2 separate regions of the Homo sapiens genome follow, and region 1 is linked to region 2. Evidence: fine-mapped expression QTL. Tissue or cell type: whole blood. Region 2 holds a variant in brackets; the other region holds the start of a gene. All regions are shown on one strand. Distances are between the middles of the regions.

What was found. PIP is the estimated chance that this variant, and not a neighbour inherited with it, causes the effect.
Region 1: it holds the start of SH3PXD2A, and the variant in region 2 is fine-mapped to the expression of SH3PXD2A in whole blood (INTERVAL, PIP above 0.99).

What each region holds. Positions count from the first base shown.
Region 1 is chr10:103,851,248-103,859,350 of GRCh38, forward strand. It overlaps SH3PXD2A (SH3 and PX domains 2A), which reads right to left and starts at 4,329. Exons shown (of 15, transcript NM_001394015.1): 1 at 3,948-4,329. The coding sequence starts at 4,019.
Region 2 is chr10:103,675,594-103,683,696 of GRCh38, forward strand. The region is part of intron 6 of SH3PXD2A (SH3 and PX domains 2A); the gene reads right to left. Among named protein-coding and RNA genes, the nearest start is that of SH3PXD2A-AS1, 67 kb to the right of the region's middle. RefSeq lists enhancers at 2,785-2,844, 2,855-3,024, 6,388-7,168. The variant T/C (reference allele first, on the strand shown) is at 4,802.

The DNA of each region.
Region 1 (8,103 bases), 180 kb after region 2:
ACAGAGGAAGAATATATTATGTCCACAAGGTCAACCCTTAATTTATTACCCTAAGCATTACTGGGGACCAGATACCAGCCTGAAGTTGCTCTACTCCTCCTGCCTCACAGTGACCCGCCTGCGTTGCCCACCATGAACTCACCTGCAGGGCACATGGTAGATGTCTCTACAGTGAGGCAGTCCTAAAGACAACCCTGTACTGCTCTGTCACCATGGAACAGGGCTGAGCCTGGCCTTCCTGCCCGGATTCTAATTGAAGAGAAGGGCCCCACCTTATATCCACATCCTCCTTTGGAGCTAACCTGACCTGCATTGCCCTAGCTCTGCCCTGTGCCAGCTGCGAGACCCTAAGCAAGTTGGTGAATTGCTCCAAGTTGCAGTTAATTCATCTGTAAAACAGAATCCAAAAACCTACCCCACATTAGGGTACATTCAATGACCTGCAGGAATCACACGAAAACACGAGTGTTAAGTATGTTTCACCATCGATGGTAACTGCTAAACTGGCTATTATTTGCATTCCCCAAAGAGTCCTGCAGAGGATCAGAACATTCATGATTGGTATTTGTCTGAAATAAACAATCAGGAAATAAAACAACTGTGAAAGTGCAATACCTCCCAAATCCAAATAGATACAATTTCTTGTTTGTTTTAGATAAACGAGCTTTTCTCTACCACATGAATTGATATATACCTATACCTGCCTGTGAGCACAAAGAACCCGGTGGACCTGAATTCAAATCTTTACTGAAAAACTTTCAAACGAAGGAATCTGCATTCTGCATCCAGCATCATCAGGACCATTTTCAAGACAAGCGGTCAGAGGCCAAAGCCAGTTTACCTAGGGTCTCCCCAGGCACAGCTCAGAAAGCCAGGAAAGGAGCCTAGCTTCATGCCAGGGAGCCTGACCTTAGTAGCAGCTGCCTGCCCTTCTCAACCCCACCCCAAGCAGGGGCCTGGCAGAGAAGAAGGAAGCCAGGGCTGAGTGCCATCCCCATGATGGAAGCTACTTGCGTGCCTTCATGAACTGACCGAAAGCACAGGACCCTTCGTGTTCAGGCAGCTCCCCCTCCCCGTGGGGATGAGCAAACCCTTTGCAGAATGTCCTGAGAGAACCTTTGCAGTGTGTTCCCAGCACTCTGGAGCCAGCAGAGCTCCTCCTGCGTGGGCCCCAGGCCTCTCATCGGCTAGCTCTGGCTAACACGCACATCCCGTAAAACCTCTCTGCTCTGCAATTTACCAAACCACAGACTCAGAATTCACCATCAGCAGAGGAAAGGCTGGAAGGAGGCTTGCTCCTCCAGTGTAGAGGGTTTCCAGAACACAGGCAATGGGTGCAGCACGTCCTGCCAGCTGACCACACCAGAGGGCCTTACTCACAACACTTGAGCTTTTGGTGTGTGGTATTCACCGTGCAAGGGCCAGGAGAGGAAGAGGCTGCAGCCTCCCCAAACCCGCTCCTCCTGCCCCTGTCTGTCCCACCAGGCCCTTTCTATTGCTTTCTTTCCCCCTTTCAATTATTGGATATGCTTATGTTATGTATTAATATATACAATGCCCCAAATGGGTAGAAACTTTTTGACCACCAGTTATTTGTCCTCTTAGCCAAACCCAACTGGACTTAGGGTACATGCAATGAAAAAAACCCAGCTGTGAGCAGCTGTGTTGCAAGTTACTTTACCCAATCTGGCTCTCCATTTCCTCATCTGTAAAATGAAGGAGTTGAGCCAGATGAGTCTTCGGGTCTCTGCCCGTTCCACAATTCCACAACATGTAACACTTTCTCCTCTCAGTGTTTTCCAGAACTCTAGTTCAGAACTCTGCATGGCCCCATCTGTTCAGTGACATCACTCCCTGCCCCCCCAAACATAATGTCATCGATTCTTACTCGGGAAGCGGAGATGTCCCGGGAAACACTTTGTCTGTAAAAAGGAAGGAAATGATCATTTCGAGGGAACTGGACAGGACTTCTTTTGTGTTTTTCACATAGAACAAGTTATTATCAATCTTAAAACCCAAAATCTTTCTTCCTTTTTGCCAGACCATTAATAGCTGCTTTTCAAAAATACTTTCTTAGTCAGAATCTCACCAATAATAAGCTACCATTTAATAAGAGCTTACTGCGTGCCAGGAACTGGGCTAAGTGCTTTACATAGATGATCTCATTTAATTCTCCCAACAAGTACATACTATTATTATCCTTACTTGAAATTGAGTAAACTGAGGCTGGGGGAGGTTTAAATAACTTGCCAAGGTGGCACAGCTAGTTACTGGCTGCATGCCAGGCTTTGAGCAAGACCGTCTAACTTCAGAACCCCAGCACGCAATCTTGCCTTTCAATCCTGTCTGCAGTGGGCCCCGGTTCTAGTTTGTTACCAGTGTGTCCTGCATCTGCAACCTTGGGCACCATCGGTGGGAGCTGAAATGTGATGTTTCATTTAAAATCCAGAGTTGGAAACGCACCTGCCTGGGTCTCAGAGCAGAGTGCCATCTGTTGAATGCAGTGCCAAGCTCAGCTGAGGACTACAAATGAGAACCCTTAAAACTTAGCCTGCAACATTTGAGAAAAATAAACCCTGGGATATACAAAGGGACATCTGTCCACAGAGCAGGTTGACCACCTGGTGACCCAAGCCCTCCAAAAAGAGCTTTCTTGTAACAGCAGCAGAAAATGCTTGCTGGACCAGATGACACAAAAGAAACAACTCTCTAAGGGTGTCAGGGACTGGACCCGACAGGCACCCACCTCCCTGCCTAGTCAACCTGCCTCCACATTTACCTCCTCCCCATATGAGCCCAGCCGCATTTGCTCAGCTGTAAAGAAACTCAAAGTTCAGAGCTACACTGGTGACAAAGGCAAAAAGAGTAGCCCGAGGCTGACATTGCCACAAACCCCAGTCCCTTTGCAACAGTGGAAGAAAAGGCACTTCAGAGATCAATGTACAATCCAGGGCAGCAACCAGCGCCTGTTTTAACTGTTAAGATTAATGCTTTGAGCACTGGAACTGCTCCTCTAAATACCCAATTTGCAAATAACATGCAGTCCTCTGTGCTTGGGTCTCTTCTATCTCAAGTACAGGAGCACAGACGCTCAGAGGGGTCAAGGACACCGTGTTTACTTCCTAAGGTGTGAGGGATGGGAAGACAGGACCGGCTGAGATGAAAGGGGAACTGTCACATAGGCTCTGGAGCTGCCCCAGTCAACCTTAACCCCTTCTCATTAAAGTTTGGGGGAGGAAGGGGGAGGGGCGGTTCCTCGGAGACCACAGCAAACATTCGCCTCCTCGTGTCTGGAGATGGAGCATCACTTAAGAGGAAATGAACCCGGTTAAGGGTCACGTCCAGAGGAGGGATAAAAGGAAAAGCCACAATTCTCCTCACACCGACGGACACAATGGCTTTATGAGGGAAATCAAAGCTTAGCGCGGAGGGTGGAGGTTGGGCAAGGGGGCGGCGGCTTCCTTCTGCCCCCAGCCCCAGGCCTAGGAAGGCAGAGACAGAGCTGGCGTGGGAGGCAGGGCGCGAGGCTTCCTTCTCCAGGGCGAGCTCTGAAAGCATCTCGGGCTGTGTGAGCGTGAGCGCCCAGGGCCCCTGGGGAGGGCCGAGGAGATGCGCTTTCCCGACGGGGCTGCTCTGTGAGGGGTTGACGAAAGCTCCCCCCACCATCCATCAAAGGCGGACAGATGACTTCACCGTTGTAACAGACAAGGGCAGCCACTTGCCAATTCCAATGCCAAAAAAAGAAACCGGGGGGGCGGGGGTGCGAAGGAGGAAGGACAGAAGAGGCTTCCCTGGAGATCACAGCCCTGCGAAGAAACTCCACGGCTGCTGGCTGCCCAGTGGGCGCTTAGCTTCGCGACCTCACAGCTGGGAGGGGCAAGGGGCCATCCGGGGCCCTCCCGGGACCTCGGGCCACCCCCAGCAGGGTCGGCGGGGGCTGTACTCACGTAGTGCTTGGAGGGGTTCCTCCGCTTCTCCACGTCCACCACGGTGGCATCCTGCACGCAGTAGGCGAGCATCTTCCCCCACAAAGCGAGTGGCGCCCCCGGCGGCGTCACCTTCTCATCCCGGCCGGGCTCCGGCTCCTTCTCCAGCTGCCGGGGTCCCGGGGCCGCCCGCCACCCCGGCCCGGCGCGCCGAACGCTGCCCGGACTCCCGGCGCCCACAGGTCCGGCCCAGGGACGGGGGAGGGTCCCGGAGGGCGCGCGGGCTCCGTGCGCCCCGGGGGACTCCCCGCCGGCCTGCCGCGCGCCCCTTCACTCCCGCGCGGCCGCCGCGCTGCGCTCGCCCGCTCGCTCTCTCCGCCGCCCGGTGGGTCCGGCGGGAACTGGCGGAGCAGAGGAGGGGCGGGGGTGTGTCCCGTCGGCGAGGGGACGGGGCGGGGGCCCCGGAGCCTGCTGTCAGCGTCCTGGGGAGGGGCCGGCGGCTCCCCTTCGCCGCTCTCCGGCTCGGGCTCCGGGGGGATCGGCGCTGGCGGAGGCTGTGGGCGCAGGAGGCGGAGGCAGGGCCTGGCAGGCAGGGAAGGGAAGGGAGGGAGGGGAGAGAGGGGAAGCGCGCGGGGAGGGGCTCCGGGCCGGGGGAGGGGCTCGGGGCGACGGGGAGGGGGCTGCAGCCCGGCCCCAGTGGCAGGGGCGGGCCGACGAGCCCCCACCCGAGCCCAGCGCGCAGCCAGCGGCCTGGCGCAGCACCGGGCTAGTTCGCTAGGCACAAAAACTCAGGGTGGCTTCGGGGGGAGAGGGAGCGGGGAAAGTGAGCCCCGCGCGCCCCCATCCTGGCTTTCCGCCTCGGAGCGGATTTGTGCCTTTTTGTCCCCACTTTTATGTCCCCCTACAACTTCCACCCCCAGATCTCTTTAATGAGAAGTAGTTTATTACCCGGCTGTTACTGCCCAGGCCCCCGAGGAGGAGATGGGAATGGGGAAAAGGCCAGCTTTAAATCCTTCAAGCCAGAGCCTCTTTGGACGAACCACCTGACCCTCTGCAGGTCATAAAGGGTGAATTCTCCCCGGAAAAGTGATCGATTCGTTGCCTGAGTCGTCCATCGATCTGGGCTTGTGTAACTACCCTGTGCATCATTTACCAATGACAACGTTACAGACTCTGCATAACACCACTGCCTTAAGCCCAGGGCTCCCCTGGGGACCCTCCCCAAGCTGGCGACAGGGAAAGGAGCATACAATGGTGGGAAAACCCACCCGGTTGGAGGCCAGCTCACCGTGAGCCCCAGGCTCTGGCATTCTCACCCCTCCCTCTAGTCTGGAAAACCCACTTTCCAAGCCACTTGTCCGTGGTCCCTGGACTTGGAGCACAGTTACTACTTAATTCAATGTAGCTTCCCCCCTTCTAGTTCAACATTTTTTTCCCATTCTGCTTTCAAACATTTAAAGGGTAGTGTTTTCACAACTACTCCAGTTGTTACACAATCACAATAAAGCTTTGTGACTGTGGACCAATGTGAAACATCTGAAAAGAGGACAAATAATTTTGTGACCTAATTGCATTAATACTTTCTTCTGCGCGTTCTCTAGACTGTCAGAACCCAGGCACAGATCTAAGGCTTTATTTATTCACATATTTGCTCCATACAGAGTAACCCACTATTCCTCCAACCTTCCTGGGGAAGGGCGCTAGGACACCAAACGATGGCACGGGACAAAGAAAAAAAAAGATGGATGGGCCTAGGGGGCTCAGACTGTGAGAGATCTTGGCACCAGGCCAGAGCTTCTTGGTCAGAGAAGATGACAGAAAACCTTTGTGAATGTTGGAGCAGGAGTCCTGGGGGAAGGTGCACCTGGTAATGTTGCTCAGCTGATGGGAAAATGGGAGGACAGGGCACTACCTCCATGAGCAAGGATTATTCCCTGAAGGGATGAGAGGTAGACCTGGAACGGGCCCTCCATATTGAGCTCCCGAACTTGGGAGGGTGCTGGCCAGCTCCAGGTCCTCTCTGATGATGGATCAAGACAGCCTGTGAGTTTGTGAGGAAGAGATTCATCATGGCTCTCGGATAACTCGTCTTCTGTGGATGGCAAAGTCTTCTGGAAGTGCTAATAAAACCTGAGAAGCCACCAGCGAGGGGAGCTGGTGTTTAGCTGTTGTGGGGGGAAGAAGAGGAGGGGGTTTAGTTTGATTTGGGTCCCCTTGTGAATCAAAGCAGTCAGCTCATCTAAAACAGCACTAGTGGTTTCCTTATTACCCTTCTTTCGGACCCAGATCCACAATGAACACACCAAGCACAATAAATTTGTAGGAGAGAGGGCCCAGTTCTTCCCCACTTCCTAGCGGCCTACAAAGTGGTAGCCTTTCTCCTGCCTAAAAGACTCCCTGCAACTTGACATTTTATAAATTCAGGCCTTTAAGCCTGACTTGAGCATACTCCCAACTTCCCCCTTTGTTCCGTAATTACCTTTATTGGAGGGAGCAACTGAGTGCTCCCCACTCAACCCCATGGTGCCAAGATCTGGGCAGAAGTTATTTCTACCTGTGGGAGAAAAATGTCTTTTCTGTACTGGGGCCGTATGTCCAAGGGGATTTAAGTATGAAATGGTGCAGGCTATCTCTTCTCTGGGTACATTTCAACCTCATGCAGATTTATTTCCCACAGTGCCTTGGGAATTCCTTTCTGTTCAATACACATTTATTGAATGCCTCACATGTGCCTGGCAATCCCCCAAAAATGACAGAGACTGGGGGAAGTTTCCTTGGAAACAAGGACTGTGCATCATTCATTAAATACCCCAACTATGCGTGGCACACAGTAGGTATATAGGATGGCCTGTGTTGAAAACATCTGCTCAAAGAGCTAGTGCTAGAAAGGATTAGAGAAACCCCTATTTTGCCACCTCCGCCCATGAACTGGAGATGACTCCAACCTAAGGACATTGTGTGAGTTAAAAATGACAAAATATAATTGCAAATTTTTTTTTAAGTTTAGGATAAGTAAGGGAAAGAGAAGCCAACATAAAGATGCAAACTGATACCTGAAAATCTGATTTTCGAAAACAGGTAATTGTAGAATGCTTAGAATCAAAGAACTTTCCAACTAGAAGGGACAAGAGAGGTTATTTATTTCTCTTATTTTACAGAGGAAGAAACCAAGGCCAAGAAAAACTAAGCAAGTTGCTTGATGCCACATAGCCAGTTAGTCCAAAGCCCGCTGTCTTTCCCCTCCACATTTATGTGCCTATACTAGGGCAAGAAGAGCTTGTTTAAAGGGCACACTTAGCACACCTGCAGGTCTAGAATGTTGCATTCACTCAAACCCTGGAGTCCCTGGTTCCAGTTCTCCATTCACACAAGCATATGAACTCGTGATGCCTGGACTTCCCAATAAAGAGGACTGTACAATCCTCTAGAGCAGAGGCCGTGTGTGTCTCCATGGTCCTCTGTGTACGTGCAAATTCCATCAGCTCCCCTAAAGCAGAACCCGCCCTACCTCCTCTCCCATGTAGGGTCTTTGTGACCACCCCCAAAGAAGACAACATGCAGGAAAGTACTGGAAACCACAGTGGGCTATATGAAAGCACAAGAGAACCTTCTCTTCCTCTTCAGAAATCGAATGACAATTGCTAATCATACATTTGTTTACTAATCATACATCACCCTATGACAGCTCAGCCTTCACTGTATTGAACCTTATTTATATCTTTTATTGTTATTTAACTTTCCTGTGCTTTAGGTTGTGCCTTCTAAACCAGTAAGAAGCCTTTGAAGGCCTTGAGGACCATGAACTTAGACATGGACACCACCCTTTCCCTCCCCACCCCCATCATCCAGCACCTCTGTCACCTGCCACACACACCTGCCCACCCAGCGCAGAGCTTTATACATGCCAGGCCCTCAATAAATGGTTGTCTTTTTAAATTACTGGGATCTCAGCAGATATTTGTAGATAATGCTGGGGCTAAGTAATGCCTAAGAAGAAGAAGAATTGGAGTCTCAGAGCAGGAATTACCCAACCTGGGTTCTACTCCTGGCTTAACCACAAACCAGCCTGTGACCTTGAAGTTCTTTCCCACGTCTGGGTCTCTGGTGCTCTTTCTGGCCCTTTCCATGCTGTACAGTGGTGGATAACTTACATAAACTGAGGTCTAGCAAGACTCTC
Region 2 (8,103 bases):
GCAAATAAGTCGTAGGGCTGGAGCTAGAATAATTATACCAGTTTCCACTTACTTAACATTCATGCTAGGTGCTGTGCTAAACATTTATGAGCATTTTCTTGTTTAATCTTCACAACAGTCTGTAATTTACAGATGAGGAAAGTGAGGCACAGAAAAGTTAAGGCTCTGGCCTTGTGCGGTGGCTCACGCCTGTAACCTTAGCACTTTGGGAGGCTGAGGTGGGTGGATCATCTGAGGTCAGGAGTTCGAGACCAGCCTGTCCAACATGTTAAACCCCATCTCTACTAAATATAAAATTAGCCAGGCATAGTGGTGCATGCCTGTAATCTCAGCTACTTGGGCGGCTGAGGCAGGAGAATTGCTTGAATCCGGGAGGCGGAGGTTGCAGTGAGCCGAGATCGCGCCATTGCACTCCAGCCTGGGCAACAAGAGCGAAACTCCGTCTCGGGGGAAAAAAAAAAGAAAAGTTAAGGTTCTTTCCCAAGGCCCTACAGCAAGAAGTGATGGCATCAGACTTAAGCCCAGGCAGGCTGGCCAGGAATTGGGAACAAAGGGTCCTCATGGGGGATGTCATTTTCTGATCCTCCCTGGCCACTGGCCAAGGCTTTCTTTATTTCTGCTGCTTTTCGTAAATGCAGCAAGAAAGGACTTGCCTCATTCCCTGGAATCCAGAACACGTGTGGGGGCAGCCCAACCCAGGGTAGGAATGCACTATTGACCCTCTGGCCCTGGGTTATGCAGTCAAGGAGCAGTTTCCCTGCTCAGGCGGGGGATGGGGTGCAGTGGGGGCTGGGCCTGGAGACCCTCCACAGCCCCTTAGGGACTAAGTCCAAGGGTGCCTGCCTAGGCCAAGCCTGGGGCCAGAAGGGTCAGCCCAGCCTAAGTGGGTGTGGACGGAGAAGCCAAGGATGCCCTAGGAGCACTGAGGCTGCCTAGAAGGGGCTGCCCTGGCAGGGAGTAGCAGGTAGTTCTGTCACCTCCCTCCACCCTGCTGAGAAGACCGGAAGCTTCCTGGTTAAAGATAGGTGCTGGGTTAGTGAGAGGTGCCGTGGGTGGACAGAGGGGTGCTGGCCAGGGAGGCTGGCAGGTTCAGAGCCTCTCTGATCCCAGCAGCTGCTGCCCAACCCATGGCAGCCCCTTGGGTTGCGGCCTCCCCCTCAGTTCTCAGGTTCTCACCTCTCCCCACCCCAGGGCATTTGTGTGCAGAGAAGAGACAAACTCAAGTTTGTTCTGAGTTCCAGGATCCCAGCCACCTCCCTCCCTGGGGTGGCCTGCCTTGGTGGTCCTCCCTCACTTACTGGGAGATCCTCCCTCCAATTCCCCCACCCTCCAGCTCCCCCAGAAGCCCGAGCCAAAGCCAGTATTTGCGTTCACACAGAGAAGGAGCAGCAGAGAGGCTGGGCAGTGGGATGAAGTCAGCAGTCGCTGGTCTCCAGCCCCGAGTCTTGCAATCCGCCTCCTCCCTGGCTCAGTCTCCCTGAGAGCCGCGAGTGAGTGATGGAGTCAATAGCAACGGACTCAGGACAGACATTCCCCTCCCCGGACAACAAAATGTGGAATGTCTCCTTCTCTCCAGACTGGACTCTTGCTATCGGATTATCAATGAATCAACCGCCAACTATTTCGGGAGCATCAACGGCCCCTGGTTGAGACCATCTGACTCTCCACCCTCTGTCTCAAAGCATCAGACACACAACCACAGACACCGTCCCCAGCATTCCTGTCTGCTTCAGGAGTCATGTAGGTTTGGGGAGACAGGCTGGGTCCCGGAAGGTCTGAGGGAGGAGACGGCAGGGCTGAGTCCTGGAGGCCTTGAAGGTATAACTGGACCCATCTTTGGGGTAGGGCTCACGGAGCCTCAGGGACATCTGGCTGGACGCTGCCATCCACTGGTGCAAGACAGGGGTGGGGATGGGGGGTCAGGGGTAGGAGGAGAATTCATTCCTGGACTGAGGTTGAGGACACCCACTTTTCAAGGTTTTCTGTCTCCCTTATCATGCCCTGGGCAGGATCTTTGTTCACTGACTGTTCCCACTGGCTCCAAACGTCTGGTTAGGGCTATAGTCCTAGCAAGCGCATAGCGCATAGTAGGTGCTTATTAAAGATTTGTTATGAGTCTCTTCAATCAGACCTTTAGTTCCTTCAAGGCCTTATCCCTGTCAGCACCCCACAACACCTTGAATGCAGGAGGTGCCCAATTAACCCTCAGTGGCTGATGGAAAGATGAATACTCACTGCTCTCAAGCCCAAGGGTGCATGGAAAACTGAGGCCCGGCTACCCCACTGCCCCAGGACCCTCTTGATACCCACGGCTCTGCCCTCTCTAGTCCAGGCTTGGCCTCCGGAACCACATACAGGCATACAGGCCTGGCTTGTGCTGGGCACAGTGGCTCCCGTGCAGGCCTCCGAGCCTGCAGAACACCCTGAAGGGCGTTGGCTCCCAGCATCTGCTTTAATGCCCTTCAAAGAGATTTTTAGAAAAATTACCCCTAAGCAGTACAGTCTCTGGCAGGATGGACGCTACAGGAAACAGGAGCCGGAGCAGGAACGACCCGTTCATGTGTAATGTCTGGGGGGAGCAGGGCTTGGTGCAGCCTCCCATGGTGTTTGCTGGGAGCCCCTGAGCCTTTCCTTACCCCATCCCTCCCCTCCTCTGCGTGGGTCCAGACCAATCCCCTGAGCGCTGAGATGCCACGTAAACAGAGCTGTGCATGCACGCAGTGCGCACGCACACACCACTGCTTGGGAAATCCCCACATCTGGCTCTCACGTGACCCAGCTATGCCCAGAAGGCTGCAGCTGAGAGGGCCTGGAAGATGAGAGGGTCGGGAGTGTGCGGCTCTCTGGGGAGCCCCGAGTTAACCCTTCAGCACCACAGCTCGGCGGCTCTGTCTAATGCTAAGCTTCCAGAGAGGGGAGAAGCCAGGAAGGAGGCCTGGTGCTCAGTGCTCAGCCCTGGCCCTGGTTGCCTTTCCCAGCGTGGGAAGGTTGGGACACTTCTCTGGGCCTCACTGGTCTTGACCTGGGATGTGAAAGGGCTGCTCTTTCCCTGTCCTGTCAATCCTGGTCAATCATCAGCCTCTCGGGAGTTCTCACTGGAGGGAGATTCCTTCCCTGATGGAGGATATTTCATGTGCATCTCCTAGTGTCAGGAACCTGGCTGCAGGACAGTGATCCTGGAATCACAAGGAGTCAAGATTCATGGCCTCCTTTGTCTCCCAGGAAACGGCTGGGCTCTTCCTAACAATAAGGAAAAGGTGGGAGGTGGCTCCTGGGCCAACACATATTAATTAGAACATTTTAAACTTCAATAATTTTATTGAACAAGTAGCAATCTGCAATAGCTCCTCTGAAACAGAACCACACAGTAGGTGCTCCAGGGCTATGAAAGAGATGCCCCACATGGAAGACGTGGCACATGGGGACAGTGGCTCCTACCACTGAACAGATGTCCTCTGCACAGGTACTGTCCTCTTCACCCAGCTGACCCATTTAGAAAGCTCAGTAAATTAGGCTCAGCAGCCATGCAGGTCTGTGTGCCTTGCTCAGAGACCCCTACATGGCGTGGCCCCAGCCCCGTGCAGCACTTGTGACACTGTTTTAAAACTGCTGTTTCCTTGCCCACCTCCCCCATCTGGCCAGGAGTCCTCTGAGGACAAGGACCTCATTGTCTCCATCTTGGTATCACTGAGGTTCCATCACAAGACCTGTCAGATGTGCAGTAGACAAACCTAGAAGGCAGGCACAGCCAGAGCCAGAAAAGCCAGCTTTAGTCTGGAAGGAGCCACCTCATCCCAGAAGGAAGACCTAGTACCAGTGTCCATTCAGAAACTTGCTTCCTATCCACTAGCCTTCAAGGGTACCCTCCCTGCGCCCCAGGAGACAGCTGCCTAGTGTCCACTGAGCCATGGGCTTGGAGCAGAAGGAGCGAGCCAAGTCATGGAGGAAGGGTGGGGGAGAGGGGAGTTCCCCTGACCAGAACCCTGTGGCCAAATGCAAATGAGCAACTCAGAGCCAGCAGGCTCCAGGACTGTGTATGGCAGGAGCTCACAGGCCAGAAGAACTTGTCCCACCCTGACAGATCTGAAATGAGGGATGTTAAAATCTGCATATTTGCAAGGTCCCCCTGGGGGGGCCATTGCCAACATACAAAGACAGTCTTAGTTTGGTCTGTTGTCACCAGCCTGTCATCACTGCTTAGCATAGCAAGGATCTGACCCTCCAGCTGGGAAGTTATGTACCCAGACCTGATCCTCTTCCAACACTCAAAGAGCCTAAGGTGCTCCAGGGCTGAGCTGAGGACACCCTTACTCACAGGGATCCAGAAGCAGTGACAAGGGGGAGGATGGTGAAGAGATGGCCAGCTCTGCCTTCTCTTTTATTTTATTTATTTATTTATTTTTTGAGATAGAGTCTCGCTCTGTCACCCAGGCTGGAGTGCAATGGCGCCATCTCTGCTCACTGCAACCTCTGCCTCCCCGGTTCAAGTGATTCTCCTGCCTCAGCCTCCTGAGTAACTGGGATTACAGGCGCCCACCACGACACCAAGCTAATTTTTGTATTTTTGTAGAGACAGGGTTTCACCATGTTGGCCAGGCTGGTCTCAAACTCCTGACCTCAAGTAATCCGCCCAACTCGGCCTCCCAAAGTGCTGGGATTACAGGCGTGAGCTACCACACCCGGCCTGCCTTCTTTATGTTTTATTTTGAGATAGGGTCTTGCTCTATTGCCCAGGCTGGAGTGCAGTGGTGCGATCACCATTCACTGCAGCTTTAACCTCCTGGGCTCAACAATCCTTCTT[T/C]GCCCTCCCGAGTAGCTGAAACCACAGGTGTGTGCCACCACACTGGACTAATTTTTTATTTTTGTAGAGAAGGGGTCTCACTAGGTTGCCCAGGCTGGTCTCAAGCTCCTGGGCTCAAGTGATCCTCCCACCTCAGGTTCCCAAAGTGCTGGGATTACAGGCGTGAACCACCACACCCAGCAAACTCTGTTTCTGAGCACAAGGAAGCAAAGGGACTTTCTAACATGACCCAGTTGTCTTGGTGCAAGACTTTATTCTAACAATAAATAACAAAATACATTTTCAAGCTGGCTGCTTGGGCCACACATGGCAATGATGAAATCCAGGGGGCAAGGCAGAAAGAAGAGAGTCAGGGAAAAGCATGATTTTCCTGTAAACTTCTAAGTTTTATGGAAACTCAGGAAAAAAATATTTTTTTCTTTCACACTTCGAAACAGACCAATTCTAAAAATGCCACGTGCCGACTAAGTTACACACACCACTTTTCTGTTTCTAAAAGTAACTTTAGATTAGAAAAAGGTGCTAAAACAATAAGTAATGCACATTTCCCCCATGTCTTTGTTTTTCCGCCGGCTTTGTCATCACTGGAAAGGTTGCCTCTTCTGTCACGTGTCTATAAACCAAACGCTGAAGTGAGGAACCAGTGACTTTCTGGCCGTGGGCCACGGTGGGAAACATTTCTTTGCTGGACCACAATTTGGGTATTTCCTCCCCCAGCAACAAAACCTTCTGGAAATGAAAGGCAGATGGTGTCTCTCATCAGGTCAGGGCTGGGTAGGCCCCTCAGATAGCCATTCTCCAAGACTCCAAATGCTGGGCTGTGTTTCAGGGGTAAGAGACTTGGGAGTCCTGTCCTCCATTCCTGCCCCCGTAGCCCACCCTCCCATCTCAGGAGACAACTGAATGTTCTTCAAGGAGCAGTCCCATCCAGGCATCATCCAGGCACCATTCATCTTGGGGATGCCAATCCCCCTGCCATCTTGCTGCCTGTCTACCCTGAACATGGCCATCAACCCACATGGATGACCCATCAAAGACGCAACCCTAGCTTGATTTCAGAAGCCCTGGGAAGCCTGTCAAAAATGCAGATTGGCTGGGTGCAGTGGCTCACGCCTATAATCCCAGCACTCTGGGGGGCCAAGGCAGGAGGATCTGCCTGGCCAACATGGTGTAACCCTGTCTCTACTAAAAATACAAAAATTAGCCAGGTGTTGTGGAGGGTACCTGTAGTCCCAGCTACTCAGGAGGCTGAGGCGGGAGAATCACTTGAACCCAAGAGGCAGAGGTTGCAGTGAGCCAAGATCGCACTACCACACTCCAGCCTGGGTGACAGAGTGAGACTCCATCACACACACACACGCGCCCGCGCGCGCGCGCGCACACACACAAAATGCAGATCGGCCAGATGCGGTGGCTCATATCTATAATCCAGCACTTTGGGAGGCCGAGGTGGGTGGACTGCTTGAGGAGCTTGGGAGTTTGAGACCAGCCTGGGCAATATGGTGAAACCCTGTCTCTTAAGAAAATGAAAAAATGCAGATACCTGGGCGTCACTCCAGACACGCTGATTCAGTAGGTCTGGGCAGGCCCTGGGAATCTGTATTTCAATGAGCAGACTCAAGATTCTGCAGTTCACTTTTGCCCATGCAGTTCCCTTTTGGACCAACTTCCTATTTTCCTAGCAGGAGAAACTGGGTGATAGGAGTGAGGGGGCAGAGGCAGCTGTGCAAGCAGGGCTGAGGGAATTGAGGCTTCCAACTAGCTGCCTCCTTCTGGGGATTCCAGGATCCGGGGAGCGCTTGCCACGCCCCTGCCCCCTCCCCGCTCCGCCTTGCTCTGTGTGTCCAGGCCAATTGGGCAGTGGGGCTCAGCCACCTCGAGCCAGGGAGCGTGGCGCAGACACACACGTGAGCAGCACTCACTTTCTCCATCGCATCACCGCCACGTGGGCTGGCCGCAGAGTTGCCAAATCAATCAGGCTCCTTTCATTTCCAATTAGATGGCTTTGAACTCCAAGGGTAAAATCAGGCTGAGGACCCAGAGCCATGCAAATAAAAACTGTTTAAAAACACCAGCCCAGAGGCTGGCTGCGGTGGCTCATGCCTGTAATCGCAGCACTTTGAGAGGCCGAAGAGGGTGGATCACAAGGTCAGGAGTTCAAGACCAGCTTGGCCAACATGGTGAAATCCCATCTCTACTAAAAATACAAAAAATTAGCCAGGCATGGTGGCATGCATCTGTAATCCCAGCTATTCAGGAGGCGGAGGCAGGAGAATTGCTTGAACCTGGGAGGCAGAGGTTGCAGTGAGCCGAGATCGTGCCATTGCACTCCGGCCTGGGCAACAGAGCCAGATTCCGTCTCAAAAAAAAAAAAAACAAAACAAACCACGAGCCTGGGTAAGATGTGCCAGAAGCTGACGCCTTCAAAAGACACGCTCACTTTTGAAATGGGCCATTGGAGGGTGGCAGGAAGATCTTTGCCACATTCTCTAAGTAGCCTGGGCCTTTCTCACTGAGGATGGGTAGCTCAGGAGGACAAGAACGCCTCGGAAATTGCTTTAAAAGGTCTTGCTTATGATACACTCTCCATGACTTCCTTTCCAGACTCATCTCCTGCTCTACCCTCGCTCCTGCCGGGATGATGGGCCCCTCTCCTTCCCTCAGACTTTTCAAGCTCATGCCAGGCCAGGTGTGGTGGCTCACGTCTGTAATCCCAACACTTTAGGAGGCTGAGGCAGGAGGATCACTTGAGGCCTGGAATTCAACACCAGCCTGGGCAACAAAGCGAGACCCTGTTTCTACCAAATAAATAAACAAATCAGTAATAAAAAATAAAGGCTAGAAATGGTGGCTCACACCTGTAATCCTAGCATTCTGGGAGGCTGAGGCGGGTGGACTGCCTGAGCTCAGGAGTTCAAGACGACCCTGGGCAACACAGAGAAACCCCATCTCTACTAAAATACAAAAAAATTAGCCAGGCATGGTGGCGGGTGCCTGTAGTCCCAGCTACTTGGGAGGCTGAGGCACGAGAGCTGAGAAGCGGAGGTTGCAGTAAATCGAGATTGGGCTACTGCACTCTAGCCTGGGTGACAGAGCAAGACTGTCTCCTACATAAATAAATAAGCCAGGCATGGTGGCACACCAGTGGTTCCACCTACTTGGGAGGATGAGGTGGGAAGATCGCTTGAGCCCAGGAATTTAAGGCCACAGTGAGCCCTGATCGCACCACTGCACTCCAGCCTGGGCCATTAAGTAAGACCCCATGTTAAAAATTAACACCAGAAAAACCCACAACAACAACA